Regions from separate parts of the Homo sapiens genome. Here region 1 is linked to region 2. The links come from fine-mapping of genetic effects on gene expression. Tissue or cell type: lung. Region 2 holds a variant in brackets; the other region holds the start of a gene. All regions are shown on one strand. Distances are between the middles of the regions.

Region 1 (7,780 bases), 80 kb before region 2:
CATGATTTACTTTCTAACCTGATTCTGGCATAACATTACGAGACAAAGAAGAAAACAAAAATATTTTACCCCAAAACATGTTTCTTTGCCACATTTTGAAATGGCCCTGCAAAGCTGTTCTTTGTGGAGGAAAATTTGCATCTGTAAAGCATCTCTATTAGCTATTAACATATCTCATTAACATAGCTAGATCTTTTGATTAACTAAGATCTGAATAGGAAACATTTGTCACCTATTGTCTCTAAGGGCAGCCACTATAAGACTTCAAAAGAACTTCGGTCTCCGCAATCTTTATCTTACCCTGAACATTCCCTTTCTATCTATCCCAGATCTTTAGACAAACTCAAGCAACTGTCAATCCGGAAATGTTTAAATTCACCTGTACCCTGGAAGCCACCCCCACCCCTTTGAGTTGTTCCACCTTTCTGGACCAAACCAATGTATTTCTTAAATGTATTTGATTGATGTCTCATGACTCTCTAAAATGTATAAAACCAAGCTGTGCCCCAGCCACCTTGGGCACATGTTCTCAGGATCTCCTGAGGACTGTATCATGGGCCATGGTCACTCATATTTGGCTCAAAATAAATCTTTTCAAATATTTTACAGAGTTTGACTCTTTTTGTCGGCAGGAGAATTAAAGGAGTGGCAACTGGTATAGAGGCAAAGAGGGAGGGTGGGAGACAGGGAGCTTACAGGAAAGAAAGACTCCCACAGAATATGGAAGGAGGGGGAGGAATAGAGATGAGGAAAATAAGAAAGATGAGAGGACTGCCCAATTTGGAATGGATCAACTTGATGAAATGATGAAAGCAGGGAAAGAGAATGAGGAGAAGAAGACAATATGGAAAATAAAAGAAATGTGGGGAAGAAACCAAGAAGGAAAAGACAGGGAAGAAAGGAGAAAGGTAGCAATAAGTGGGATATGGGCAAAGGAGAAAAGAGAGAAATGAAAGACAAAAGAAATGATTGAAGAAATTAGACAAATTCAGGGAACTAGAGAACTTTAAGGATTTGGAGAGAAGAAAACTCATAAGGAAAGGTTTAGCAAAGAGAAGAAACAGGGGAAGACTCTTCTAGTCCAGACTCCTCATCCATTGATCCCAGGAAACAAACACACTACAATAATCAAATGCAAGTCTCTCTGAATCATCCACCCTCTAATATCTAACACTCTTTTCACCCTCAGTCCCCCTGATATCTATTCATCCCATTGTAGGCAATATAATTTATCCTGAGCATATTTTTTCTTTTTATCTCTGTGCCTTCCCTGAAAGTATCCATTTACCCAAAGAGAGGCCCCCTCCCACTCTTTCCCCATCAAAAAAAGAGGGCAGAGGGGTGCATTTACTTTTCCCAGATTCTAATTGATAGTGTCAACACATTCTTTAGGTTCCCTTGCACTGGAAATGCATGTCTATCTTATATGTTCTTATTCCCAAATCCTCACCACCATCCACCAACTTCCTGGGACGCACTTCCAACCTCCTACTCAGTTTCAGCTCATCCTTCTGGTTTTCCTCTCAGTCCTGGCAGTTTTCCTCTCCAGCCTCCATCTGCAGGAACTTTACTTCCACTGCCAATTAACTCAGCTCTCCTCTTCTTCCAGCATATCCTTTGTACTTACCCACTTTTTCTCTTATGCACAGTGATGAAGCCCTCTCTCACTTCTCACCCCACCATCCTACCCCTTTCATTCCACCATCATCCATCATCTCCAATCATCCATCTCTAACATCCCACTTGTTCCAGGTCAACTTGCTTGCCATGGTTCAAGGTTTCAATGGAGAAGCAAGAAGCAAGAGATCATTGTGAGAGAGGGGAGCTCCGGCATGGTGAGAGGGAGAGGGTAATGTTGACAAGGAGTCATTGGGAGACTGAGGTTTTGGAGGTTAGAGAATGAGAGTGATGGACAAAAGAATTGAAATGCAGGAGATGCTGAAGAGATGCTTGTGGAGGAAAACACCATGCATAGGATAGAAACTGAACATTTGGAGGAAGCAACAAAGATGGAGCTTGCTAAAAGGGACAAGTTGGAGAGAATGGAGTAATTATGGATACATGGAGAAGCAAAGAAGATGGAAATTAGATAAAGAAAAAAATGCAGAAAGGGACCAAGAGAAACGGAAGAAGGGTACCCAAGGCAAGGCAACAGGAAACAGTGAGAGATGAGCAAACCCAGGCAGCTCCCGCCATCCTGCCTCTTTTACTCCCCCATCATCTCCAATCATCCACCCGTATAATCCCACCTGGGATGGTGCAAATCAGTTGTTCCACAACTACACAGGGTTTGGAGCAGTCATGGTCATTTTAGGCACAGAGTCACCCACTTGCACAGAGCATCTTCCACCCTGCTTTCCTCACCCAGTATTCTCCGAAGTCGGTTTTTGTTCTTTGTGGCAAGCTCCTGAAAAGAATTATTGGTCTCTTTGGCCCTTCCACAGGCAAAGCTGAAGAAGTCGGTGCAGGGGGCCACACTTGTGTTCCCAGAGGCCAGGTAATGATCCCGGAGATCCAAACACACAGATGTCTCACAGGGGCCTGTGGGGAAAAGCTCAGAGCTGGGAAAGAAGAGGCAAAAAGACAAGGGCTCCCCCAAGGGGCTAGGCAAAGAACATCAGGTGAGTAACTAAGTGGGGAGCTGATGAAAAAGAAATGGTTAGGATGCAGGGAGGAAGAAGAACCATGGGGACCCCAAGGGTCAGGGTGGGCAGAAGCCCCAGGAGCAGGGACTGGGCCTGGGCCCCAGGGCTGGGGGAGGGCTGACTAGGTTAGGGGGTCTGGGATCTTGCTTACGAGGGCCACAGTTCTGGAAGTTGTAGAACAAAAGCACAGAAAAACAAAGGAGCAGGCCCAAAATCAGGATAGCTGTCAGCACCCGCCTGGCCACTGCCCATGGCCTGCTCCCTTCCACGGGCAGCCTCTCTTCTGGAGTGCTCTGTGGGAGGAACCAAGAGGTGAAAGATACAAGATGGGGGTTGAGAGACAGGGATGGGAAGAAGAGGAGAGAGAATGAATCTGTTGGTGCTACAGTCCCTTTATACAGAAATAATTATCCCAATTCTTCCTAAACCCAGCCCTACTTTAACTCCTGGGAGATGAGAAAACAAGGAATGTCAACTGTTTTGGGTGAGGATGAAGCAGACAGTTAGTAGATGAGTGTTTGTGGGATTTTAGAGCCGAGAGTGACAACATCAGTGTATTCCAGACCCAGGAGAGGAGGCCACTTACCTCTTGGCTCCAGAGAGTTCCCATTCCACCTGCCTGGCTGCGTTCCCTCGGCTCTTCCTCACTTTGGTCCCCACCTTCCTGAAGTGAGTGGAGGGAGAAGGAGGAGAGAGAAGCTGGTTCAGGAAATGGTGCATTGAAGAGAGTTTTATCAGGCCATTTTGATACCCTCGCTGCCTGCCCTGCCCCCACACACATATTTTTATCTCGGAGCAGTGTTCCCAGATGGGCTTCAGAACGAACCTGTCCCCTGAATGTGCCATTTCTCGATCCCTCTCCCATTACCTCCCTCTCTCCCCACCTTTCTACTCTGTAAGCCTTACATTCCCTCCCCTCCAGTGGGGGCAGGACTTTTGCACACAGCCACCCTCACCCCTCCCCGCTAAGCCTCTGACTCCAAAAGGGGACTTACCATCTGTCTATCTTCTGTGGCTCCAGAATCCTTCCTGGTTCCACTCTAGGAGCTGATTCGGAGGACTGGGGTCCAGGAAACACCCCCCGCCCCAGTTCCTTGATCCTGGAGAAGGGGCACTTCTGCTGCTCTTTCGCCTTGTCCCCAGACACACAGGACTGGCCTCTGGGTGGAGCCTGCTTATCAGTGGGGGGCACCCAGGCTTCTCCTCCCCCTTTATCTCAGCTTCTCAGGGGAGAAGAGGGAGGGAGTCTTCACTCCCCAAGCAATCTTGCCCTTGGTCTGCTCCTTTTGTCTTGCACTGTGACTCTGCCCATGAAGTTCCTTTATTTCTAAAATATTCTTCCTTCTCTCATTTCTTCTGTATTAAAAAAAATATGAGGCACAGTAAAATTTTAAAGAGTTTATTTAAGTAAGAAGCAATTCATGAATTGGGGAGCACCAGACCGACAAAGGTTTAGTGTTGCGATGACAAAATGTCAGAGGCAAGCATTTATTGGGAAGTTATAGAAGCAAAATGAAACATTATTTGCTTAGTTTGCAGTTACATAATTGCATTTTTTAGGTAACTTTTTGGAAAGTCCCTAGTCACATAATCATATGTTAGTTGGCTGCTTATCATTGGCTGGGGTTAAGTTTTATTTGTTGTAAGCATTTATCAGAAATTGACCCAAGTTAAGTTTAATTTATGTTTGTAGTTTTAGCAAGAATATGGCTATTTTTAAGGTCTTTGGCTTTGTTTGCCTGGGAATTTTTCAGGCCCAGTCTCCATTTTAATTTTGTTTTCACACCTCTCTGATTGGCTTTTCTGGGATTCATCAATTCCCAGGTCAAATGCCACCTTTCCCAGGAGGCCTCCCAGCTCCATGCCCATTCACACTGTTCCCAAGCATGCTTAATTGTTTCTCTCGGTGTTTCATAGCTCTGCTGGCTGCTGGCAAAGTCATGCATTCAAAAGATCACCCAGCTAGGAGACCCTAATCTGCTAATTATTAGCTCTGTGACAATAAACAAGCCACTTAAACTCTGAGGCAGGTAAGCAAGTTTTGTCATCTGGAAAATGAGGGTAATACTTGCCTATGCCTACCTCATAGGATCTCATGCCTTCTACAAAAGAATAAGGCTTTACTGAGCCCCTCTTTCTTTCATTCTGCTTTCTGTTACACTGATAGCTTGCCTCTTCATCTCCTTAGTGATTGAAAACTATGTCATAGCATGTACAGTGTCTGGTTTTCATTCCTGCCCACCCAAGATGCTTTCTAAATGTTAATAGAAATGAATTGCATTCCAAGCCAGAAATCCTCTTTCTCACATCATATTAAGCCCTTACCTGTGGTCTGAGAGAGGCAAGCACATTTCTGGGGGAAGGTGTTTCAACTCTGTCCTTGTTTCCTCATCCCAGGAAAAAAATAATGTAATTTATTAGGTTAGTCTTGCAAATGATCCCCTGGCGATATTTCCAGATTCCATCAGCACTGTGCTAGGGCCATGGTGCACTTGCCAGGATGAGGGTGGGTGTGGAGAAGTGGAGTAAAGCCATTGTGCCCCCTGGGGCCAGCTGGTCGGGTATCATGAAAGTCATAAAGAAAAGTCAGAACTTCATACATTAGAAAAGAAAGCATTGGGAAAAATAAGGCTTTTGAGGAAAGGTGTGGCAAGATACAATAATATCTAAGAAACGCCGGTGTGGTATTGGGGATCTGGACTGATTGGATAAAAGACAAGAAACAGAGTGGTTAGTTTGGTGTTGCAGGAGTGATGAAGGGAGGGCCCGGCCCAAGGGGATGGCAGAGGGGAGGGAAGTGCGTAGAAAGAAAAATTGTATGGAATAAAGTCATGGCAATGGATTGAATGGAGGAGGGGTTTATGATAGAGCCACAGAGGAGCTCCAAGTTGCATTTCTGCATGACTAGGGGAATAGTGATGCCAGCGAACAATGGAATTTTGATTAAGGGGGGAGTAGGAATCAGAGTGAGGGGAAAAAGCTGACTCAGGATTCTAGAGGTGTTTGGTCTGTGTGGGTACACCCTGATGGTGCCTCCTCTTCAAACTTCCCTTCCACAGAAAGTCCAATACTCTCCCCATGGGCTTTTAGCTTCCTTCACACATATTCCCTTCCTCACTCCTTTTCTATCAATCAAAGCCCCTGAGCTGATGTTTCCCTAGGAAGATGATAATGGAGACCACTTAGATTTGATAAGAGAAAGTTGAAGATGGAGTGTGCTCTGTGACATTTGCCTATGGACAGCCACCACAGCCTGGACTTAGGTTCTCTCCCTGTCAGAGAAGCTGAGCCAGCCACAGGGATAGGGCAGCACAGCTGCCAGGTCCACCATTCCTACTCAGCCTCCTCCTGAAGGCCAAGCAACCTCCATCCTGGGAGCTGTCTCAGGAGCAGGACTTCTTCTTATCACCCATATCCTACTCCATGGTGAGTCATCACCAGCACAGCCATACCCAGTCACGGGAGTGCAGCAGCCTTCACTCAGATCTAAGCCCCGAGAAGAGGTGTGTTAACAGCTGTGGCACATGGACCACATTTATCTTTTCGGATGCTGCCTCCTTCTTGCCCTCAATTGTCCTGTCTGTTTATTTTAATTCCAGGAGGTTTTGTTTCATGCCATAATAGTATCAAAATAAAATATTGGTAATAATAAAAATAACCACTTTTTACGGAGCACCTTCTTTGTGCTAGGAATGTGCTAAATGTTTTGCTTGTACATTTTCCTTCAGTCTTCACAGCAACTTTCTGAGGGAAATAACAGCTTTTATTTTCCCCATTTTATAGATGAGCGGTCAGAGAGATATGAAAGTACAGTGAACTTACTCAAAGTTACAAAATTAATAATTAGCAGAACCGAGAATTGAACCAAAGCCTTAACCATTGAGCCTCTCAGTCACTAAGTATCTGTTTTTTGGAAGTTTCTTCATAGTAAACATCTTCCTTCATCTAAACTCTTCTTTTTAAACTATGTTTCACTGCTTGGCCTTGTGAGGTGACAGTTTTGGGGACTAGTATTCTCAAACTCTCTAACATCCAGTTTCATCATCTGAAGATCATGGCCTTTGCCACAATGTTCTATCCATAATCAGCTGCCATCTACAGTGGATGTGGTATCAAAATCAAGGACAGGACATTAATCTGTCTATTGTGACACTCTCAAGTGTGCACATGACTGGCAATTTGCTTCTAAGATCACTCGATTGCAGTGATAGCCACTAAGAAGCTACCCCCTAAAGAACAATAAACCCAGTTCTGAGTGAACCGAAGTAAGCCTTGACATCACAAGCAATGTTGAGGACTTTGCCCAGAAGATGATGGAGAAACAGATCATGGGGGGCAGGTTTTGGGGTGCACTGATTGCTCTTTCAAAGGAAGCAATACTTGAGAATTGGGGAGCTCCTTTGGGAAAGAGTAGCTTGTAAGTTCAGTATACCACAAAGTGGCTTTTGAAATAATTTAAGTGATAAGTAGATGGACCTCTTTCAATATGTGTGTGTGTGTGTGTGTGTGTGTGTGTGTGTATATATATAAATATATATTTATATTATATATATTATATATATATTTATATTTATATTATATATATTATATATATATTTATATTATATATATATTATATATATTATATATGTAATACATATTATACATATAATATATATAATATATATATATATTTTTTTGAGACTGAGTCTCGCCCTGTCAGCAGGCTGGAGTGCAGTGGCGTGATCTTGGCTCACTGCAACCTCCGCCTCCTGGGTTCAAGCGGTTCTCCTGCCTCAGCCTCCCGAGTAGCTGGGACTGCAGGTGCACGCCACCATGTCCAGCTAATTTTTGTATTTTTAGTAGAGACGGGGTTTCACCATGTTTGCTAGGATGGTCTCGATCTCTTGGCCTTGGCCTCCCAAAGTGTTGGGATTACAGGCATGAGCCACTGCACCTGGTCCAATATTTTCATTTTTATATACATTTTTCTTTTATAGATATATGACTCTAAGAAGACTAAAATACATAGCCTCTGTATTTTTATTAAATCAACTAAAATATACTAAACAAATAATAGCTGTATTGGTACTTGAATATGTCAAAAACTTGAAGAAAATGCTCAGAAGTCTGGAGTTTTAATTATGTATGGGTAG
Region 2 (7,780 bases):
TTTGTCTGAATCAGTTCTCTCTAGATAACATCATGGGCCATTACAGTCCACACCAGATCTAGTACATAAACTTATCCTAGATTAATGATTTTACAAGTGAGTAGAAGTGTTTGCTGAATATCCTTAAGCTCAAGGCCATTCCATGTCTATGTTTGACTTTCCCACATAAGTATACTCGGACACAGGTAAGAGAAGTCATCATGGCCCAGAGAAAGAAAAGGACATTCTGGCAAACTAGTAGAACAGATAGGGTTATTACCTATCCACTATATAGGGTTGCATTAATAATGTATGTTATTAGAGATAGGATTATTACCCCAGTGGCAGAGACATTACCCACAAAACAGGAAATGAGAAGGAACAAACCTTACTGACCTGCCACAAAACTTCCTAACTGACCTTCACATCTACCCTCGCTTCCCTCTGTCTACTCTGTTCTCCCCATAGCAGCCTGCGTGATCCTTTAAAACACAGACTAGATCAGGTCTCTCCCCGGATTAAAACCTTTCTCTCTGCCATTTGGTTAAAGTCCTGAGACCTGTGAGGCTCTGCATGATTTCTAGAAATACCTTTCTCTAATGTCATCTTGTGTCACTCCTCTGCTCAGTGACACTGACATCCTTTGTGCTCCTGTAATGGCACGCTGCTCCATCTCTCAGAGTGCTCATTGTGATTCCCACCATGCTGTGCCTAGTTAGCACCAGATACCAGTTAATGATTACTCCTATAGATGCTTCCCATAACCTCACAGACATATCCATGTTCAGGTTCCCTGCCAGGGGCTTTCCAGATATTACAGTAAATGCTGCAGTGCGCTGCCCGGACTCCCATTCAGAACCAAGATGCTAATTACCCCCAAATTGCTCCCAATCAAAGAGAAACACCTTCCCCAAGATTATAGCCCTTCCTCTAAGGTAGCCTGCATCCAATGGCCTATGGATGCAGAAGTATAATGCCCAGGCCCCAAGTTTCTGTTCAGGACAACTCTGGGCACAATTCAGGACAACTCTGGAAAGCCGTCCTAGCTCAGAGCTCCCCGTAGGATTTAAGCCTCTGTTGTGACCTCATCACAGGTCTGTCCAAACATCTTCTCCCTCATCACTCCCAGATCTAAGACAACCACGTAGTTTCTTGCTCAAAACAACTCACTATTTTGTAAGTGTGTGTGTGTGTGTGTGTGTGTGTGTGTGTGTTTACCTGGTTTTATAGCGTATGGTAACATCGGTCTTCATCAAATATGCTCCATAGTGGGGAGACCATGTCCACTCTGTTTACTGCTGTATCTTCAGTACATTGTCTAAAAAATAACAGTTATTCAAAAACAATTCTTATTAAAGTTTGTTTTTTTAATTTACAGTGAGATTGAGTTCTTTTCATGTTTAAAAAATCATTTGCAGTTTTCTTTAATGAATGTACAGGTTTGTAAGAGAACATTTTGCATAAATCAAACAAATCTTTATTTCATGTTTCTGTTTTTATGTTTTGTTTCTATCTTGCATAAATATTTCATCCTTAGGCAGTTACACTTAACAGTCTTTTAGACTCCCGGGATCCGTGTTTTCCTTTGAAAAGCCTATGTTCATACTCCAAGGAAATTAAAAACAAACCAAAAAATCCCATTTTTTACTTTTTACATTTAAGTCTGTTTGAGCCATCGGGAATTTATTATTTTTTGGAAGCATAAGGTATAGATCCAGGGTTTTGGTTTTTCCAGATATTCTGTGAATGTAATACATATTTCTAGGACAAAGGGAAGGTGGTGACAAGGAAGGGAGAAGAGAGAGAGAGCCCCCAAAAAACAAACTTAGAGGCCTGCCATGGCAAAAAAAAAATACCTCCTCCTCTATCTGGGTTGGGACACAGAGGGCATCCATATTTGGATGTGGAGAAACAAGAGATTAGAATGACTATGATATTAATAAGGGCCAAAGAATATCAGCAATGGAAAGATAATGTTTTCCAACACTTCGTTTTACATATTGTAAGCCTGAAACTCAGAAATCGAGTGACTTGTTAAGGTCATGCTGCAGTTTACTAGCTGAGTTGACATGAGTGACCGGGAACTCCTAGACCACCCTTCTACAGGAGGCAGTCAGCTGTTGTCAGCAGGGAATGAAGCACCAGTAGGTTGAGTGGAGTGACCTTCAAGAATCCTGGCAACCCTGAGATTCTGAGACTCACAAATGTGCTTTTGAAGATCAGCAGTCTTATAATCAAAGACAGATGCTTTAAGGTGAATAAGTTACATACTGGAACACAGTAAAAGCTCAATAAATACCTCAGCAATGAGTGTGGCATGTCCTTATCAATAATGATAAGTAAATGTGCCTCTGGACATGATGAAGAGGATCCATGAGCGTAAGTGTGCAGTTTATGACAACGTCAGTGTCTGGGATGGTTGCTGGAGTGCCAGGGAGACACAGCCCCTTGGGACTGAGCAGTGGAGAAAGGGGGAAGGGGACCTCACAGCTGGGGATCCTGAAGCTTCAGACTCTCCTCCATCCTGTAACACTGGGATAGTGAGGCCAGACAGCAGGAAAGGGCTGGAGAAGAGCATTGCTAAACAAACTTAGCTTGCTCTTGTCAGCTTACTAACATCTACCATGCTCTTCTATACCCCAAGACGACCTGTACTAGTGTGTTACATAACATGTTTTATTTAATTCTGAAATTAACCTTATGAGGGAGGCATTACTATCCCCATAATATTGGGGATTTTTTATTGAATAAAATTCCAGATTTTTATCTGCGTTACATTTACTTAATGAATGCTTAGTCAACAACTACTATGTAAATGTTACATTTCAAACCCAGGTCGAACTCCAAAGCCCCCCACCACACACACACACACACACACACACACACAACTGAGGTGCTGGACCCAGTCCTCATCTGCCTCTTGTTGCTGTCTGACTGTACCCATTGTTAGTTTAAGCATCAGCGTTGTACAACCCAAAGGACTCCTGGCTTTCCCTTGTTCCCACAAGGAGCACCCTGCTGGAGTCTAAAGTTTCCCATTTGGCCCAGCTCATTTCTTAAAATCAGCAAGACCCAAAGGTTTCAAAACAGAGTGGGTGAACAGCACCATCATCCCTGGGAGCAAAGAACAGCAAGAGAATCATTCTCATTGGATTTCCCTGCCACCTCCATGCTATCTCCAGCCTGACATCAGTCATGGATACTGCTGCCCTGGGCTGTATAGGGAGAAACAGTAAGTCTCTTCATCACAGACTCAATGAAAGTTGCTGACAGATTCTAACTTGTGGAGTCACTTGCAAAGCAGGGCCAGGGTTGCTTGCCCCATTCCCAA[G/A]GGGCTTATGTCTCCGTGTCAAAATCTGGGTACCACAGTCAGGAAGCCGCCGAAGTAAATGACCTAATAAGAAAAGCTCGCCATGCTGGACTTATGAATTAAGATGCATTGGCTGGGTCTGGAGAATGAATGAGTTATAAGGATTCGGTTTCGGTTAGTCAAGATGAGTTTAGACTTGGCATTAAGATTAGTGAGAGGGTTGCATGCTTACTGCTTAGGGAGATAGATCCACTTCTGTGATTAGATGTCATTGCTGATGGCCAGGATACAGTTCTAGGAAATACCTGTGGTTCCAGAGAGACAGCTAACATGTGTCTTCTCAGGGCTTCATTTGTGTGCTCTCATTTCTGATTTTATTTACTACTTATGGATCTCTAAAGGTATTCATTCAGTTAACTATAATTAAAGTGTGCAGCCAGCACACTGCTGGACCCATACATAGATGCATCAACACACACACACACACACACACACACACGCACACACACAAACCCATCACCTTCACGTTAAAGAAGTGTGGTTGGCGGTTGGGTTAGAAGGGGAGATGATGAGAATGAAGTTTCCATGCCAATAACAACAGCGGAAACTGCTGTTATTGAACTCTTCCTATGTGGCAGCCATAATCCAATTTGATGCTCACGCTAGCTCTACTATTTTTTATCTTACATCTGGGGAAAATTCCACTCCAAGAGGATTAGTATCAGCCCAAGGTCATACAACTGGCAATTCACAGGGCCAGGATATAAACCTAGACGGTCCAAGGTCTGTGCCGTCAGCCCCCATACAAGAGTGAGTCATGTCAGGGAAGGGTGGTCCACTAGGATAGTCACAGCATTTTAAGAAGCAGAGCTAGAAGTCCAGTGCAATCCACATACCACACACATCTTTCAGGGACTGTCAGAGCAGCAGCATCCAATGGGTCTTGCCTGGATTCCAGAGCTTGAATCTAAATATCTTGATTCCCTTTCTGCCTTCAGCCATTGTAAACATGTAGCAGATGGTCACCCCAAAGGGATCTTATTGTCTCTCTGTTCTGGCTCCCCTTGCTTCCTGAATTGAATGGCTTTGCTGCTGCTGCTGAAAGCTGGAAATATGTGGCTGAGTGAGAGTTCTCAGCAGAGGGGCATCTAGAAAGCCTCACAGGGGTGCTTTAGACTGGCTTCTGTGCTCAGCCTCTGGCCATGCTCAGTCCCGTGTCCTGCCTGCCTTTCCTCCCTCCTTCTGCTCACAATTTCTGCTTTTCTTTGTCACTTCTGCTGCTTCTCTTGGGTTACCTTTTATTCCTTCTAGCTTTCTGTCTGCATTCCTGGGCCTCCTGTGTCTCTCTGTCTCTCACTTTCTCTCCATTACTGCTTTTCTAACACCTCGCCTCTCTGGTTTTGTGTTTCTCGCATCCACACTGGCTCTCTCCTGTGAACCTTGGCCTTTCTTTATCTCTGACCACAAAGGTACATAGGGCTTAACACAGAAACGATGAAAGGAAACTTAAGGGATTAGAATGTAACACTAACAACATCTGCTACAGCAAGGTCACGCTGAAGTCACCAATAACTCAAATCTTTCAACGGCTTTTAACAACTATGTTTGTTTCTCACTCATGCCATGCGCCCATCACTAGCCAGGAAGTAGACTCTGCTCATTATTATACTGTAGGGACTGGAGCAGTAGAAAGCTCCCTTTAAACACATTCTTCCATGATCTCAGATGTGGAGAAAAAGGGAATGTGACTCAAATGCCAACCCTTAAAGCTCTTGCTATGAAGTGACTCTCATTACTTCTACCCATATCTCACTGGCTGAAGAAAATCACTCGACCACTCCTGAATTAATGGAGCAAAAATATGTGATATTCCCACTGGGAGGGTCACCTCCAGGAAGGACAACAAATATGAGTGAACAATTATTTGTCCATTATAAACGTCTGGGTTTCTGTTTGTTTGTTTGTTTTACTTATTCTCTTCCTCATGAATTTTGGGTTTAGCTTATCAAATAATGTAAGTAATTTCAGTTTCACAGTTTCTGTCACTGCTGAGCTACAGAATATCTGAAACAGTCATAGCATTACTATTCTTGGCATGATATAGAGGGAAAGGACAGTGTGTGAAGTGGGTGAAATCAGAGCTTCGGTCTCAGGCCCCAACATGTGATGACTGAGAAACACTGACATTTACTTAAGCTCTGTGAGATTCTACATTGTTATCTAAAAACTGAATATAATAATTCTCCCTCACAGGTTAACTCCAGAATAAATCTGTAGTCATTACATGTGATTTTTTTCTCCTATGTCTCTCATATTCTTCTCATTCAATCAGCAAGATATCTTTTATATAATCAATATAAATCAATAAGCAATGTAATGATATACAAGTTTGGATTATGTTTAGGTTGGTGAGACAAAATGACATAAAAATTAAGAGCAGAGTCTTTGGGATCAGATCTGATTCAAATTCAAACTCTACCATGCAGTAGCTGGTGTTAGTAGCTACTATCAATGTTTTTGTTTGTTTGTTTTGTTTCTTTTCTTTTGAGACAGGGTCTACCTCTGTCACACAGGCTGGAGTGCAGTGGTGCAATCATAGCTCACTGCAGAACTCCCAGGCCCAAGTGATCCTCCCACTTCAGCCTCCTGAATAGCTGGGGCTACAAGCACGCACCACCACACCCATCTAATTTTTGTATTTTTTGTAGAAATGGAGTCTCACTATGTTGCCCAGGCTGGTCTCGAACTCCTGGGCTCAAGCAATCCTCCTGCTTCAGCCTCCCAAAGTGGTGGGATTACAGTCATGAGCCACCATGCAGCCACTATTGTCAATATGATTAAGGATTGAAAGCCATTCCAGCCAGGTGCAGGAGACATCCCTATTTGTCATTTGTCTACCATTGCAGCCCATATCATTCACGATTTATTTGCCTTGCTCCACCCCTTCCTTACTCTGAAAAATTAGAATATTAATAGAAAACAGGTTTTAGGATCAGTTTTTATATCACACAAACATTTACTAATGCTTTGAGCTCAGATATGTAGGAATATTTATGTAAAGAAAAACATAAGTTGTATAACCCTTACCAAATTTTCCAAGAGTCATGGATTCTTTTACCAAGAAAAACCTCACAGATAAAGAAACTTTTTAAAAAGTCTTGCTTTTTTTGTTAAAATAAATTTTTCTCTAATTTTTGAGAGCTAAATGGTTAACTGAAAAATAAGCATTCATTAACAGAATGTGTTACACAAAAATTTATCACACATTTTAAGAGACGTATTACGATATATGCAAAAATCAAGACTGTGCTGTGTGGTTTTTAAGCTTAGTGACAAGTAGATCAAATAAGGTCTATGAATCGTATTTGTGTTTGACATCTAAGCAAACTGTCTGGGATCAGTTGTGGGAGTAAAGCAAGATGTTTTTGAGGCCTCGCGATGTGCATGTGTGATAGACAGAGTAATATTTTGTTGTTTTTATGTTTCAGAGATGCTTGCAGCTTGGGTGATATAAAACTCCCAGTGGGGCAATGTGTCTGCCTTCCTCATAAATGGACAAAAAGGAAGAAATACAGTGTAGTATCAGAACAAGCTTGACTTCAGATACTGCAGCCTCCTGTTCTCTGAGAAGGGGAGTGAAAAGAGAGTGGGGTGAGTTAGTGTCTTTCTTTCCATTCAGGATCAGATATCTGACAGAGTAGTCTAAGCCTTAGAAAAAGAAAATTTTGTTGACTTATCCATGACAGGTTTTTTAAAGGGCCACAAATTTTTTGGCACTCCTCCCATTAAGATATGGCTCTGGCTGGGTGCGGTGGCTCACACCTGTAATCCCAGCACTTTGGGAGGCTGAGGCAGGCGGATCACGAGGTCAGGAGATCGACACCATCCCGGCCAACATGGTAAAACCCTGTTTCTACTAAAAATACAAAAATTACCTGGGTATGTTGGTGCATGCCTGTAATCCCAGATATTCAGGAGGCTGAGGCAGGAGAATCACTTGAACCTGGGAGGCGGAGGTTGCAGTGAGCTGAGATCACACCACTGCATTCCAGCCTGGTGACAGAGTGAGACTCTGTCTCAAAAAAAAAAAAAAAAAAAAGATATGGCTCTATGCCCCTGCCTCTTGAATCTTGTGTTGCTTGGACTCATAAAAGTATGGCAAAAGTGACCATATGTGACATCTGTGACAATCTTATTTGACAAGTAGATCAAATAAAGCCTATGATTTGTATTTGTTTTAGACATCTAAGCAAACTGTCTGGGATCAGTTGGGAGGATAAAGCAAGACATTTTGGCACAAGTACTGTGTATCATCTTTGTGCATAAAATGGGTGCCCCTTTCCATCAGGTAGATGCAGCTCCTTCAGCCCCCATGTGCCCCTTCAGTCTCTCCATCACCACCTTTGTACAGTCTACAAGCCACACAATTTTACTCAGGGGCCCTAATTCAGCTCCTATCTCCATCCACCACCAGGCAAGTGCCCTCTTGCT

The links. PIP is the estimated chance that this variant, and not a neighbour inherited with it, causes the effect.
Region 1: it holds the start of KEL, and the variant in region 2 is fine-mapped to the expression of KEL in lung (TOPMed, PIP above 0.99).

Annotation. Positions count from the first base shown.
Region 1 is chr7:142,958,564-142,966,343 of GRCh38, forward strand. KEL (Kell metallo-endopeptidase (Kell blood group)) reads right to left here and starts at 3,800. Exons shown (of 19, transcript NM_000420.3): 1 at 3,641-3,800; 2 at 3,232-3,309; 3 at 2,797-2,938; 4 at 2,365-2,541. The coding sequence starts at 3,643. RefSeq lists a silencer at 3,564-3,759 and a cis regulatory region at 5,882-6,283.
Region 2 is chr7:143,038,195-143,045,974 of GRCh38, forward strand. LOC105375544 (a long non-coding RNA gene) reads right to left here and starts at 2,738. Exons shown (of 2, transcript XR_001745395.1): 1 at 1,198-2,738. The variant G/A (reference allele first, on the strand shown) is at 3,311.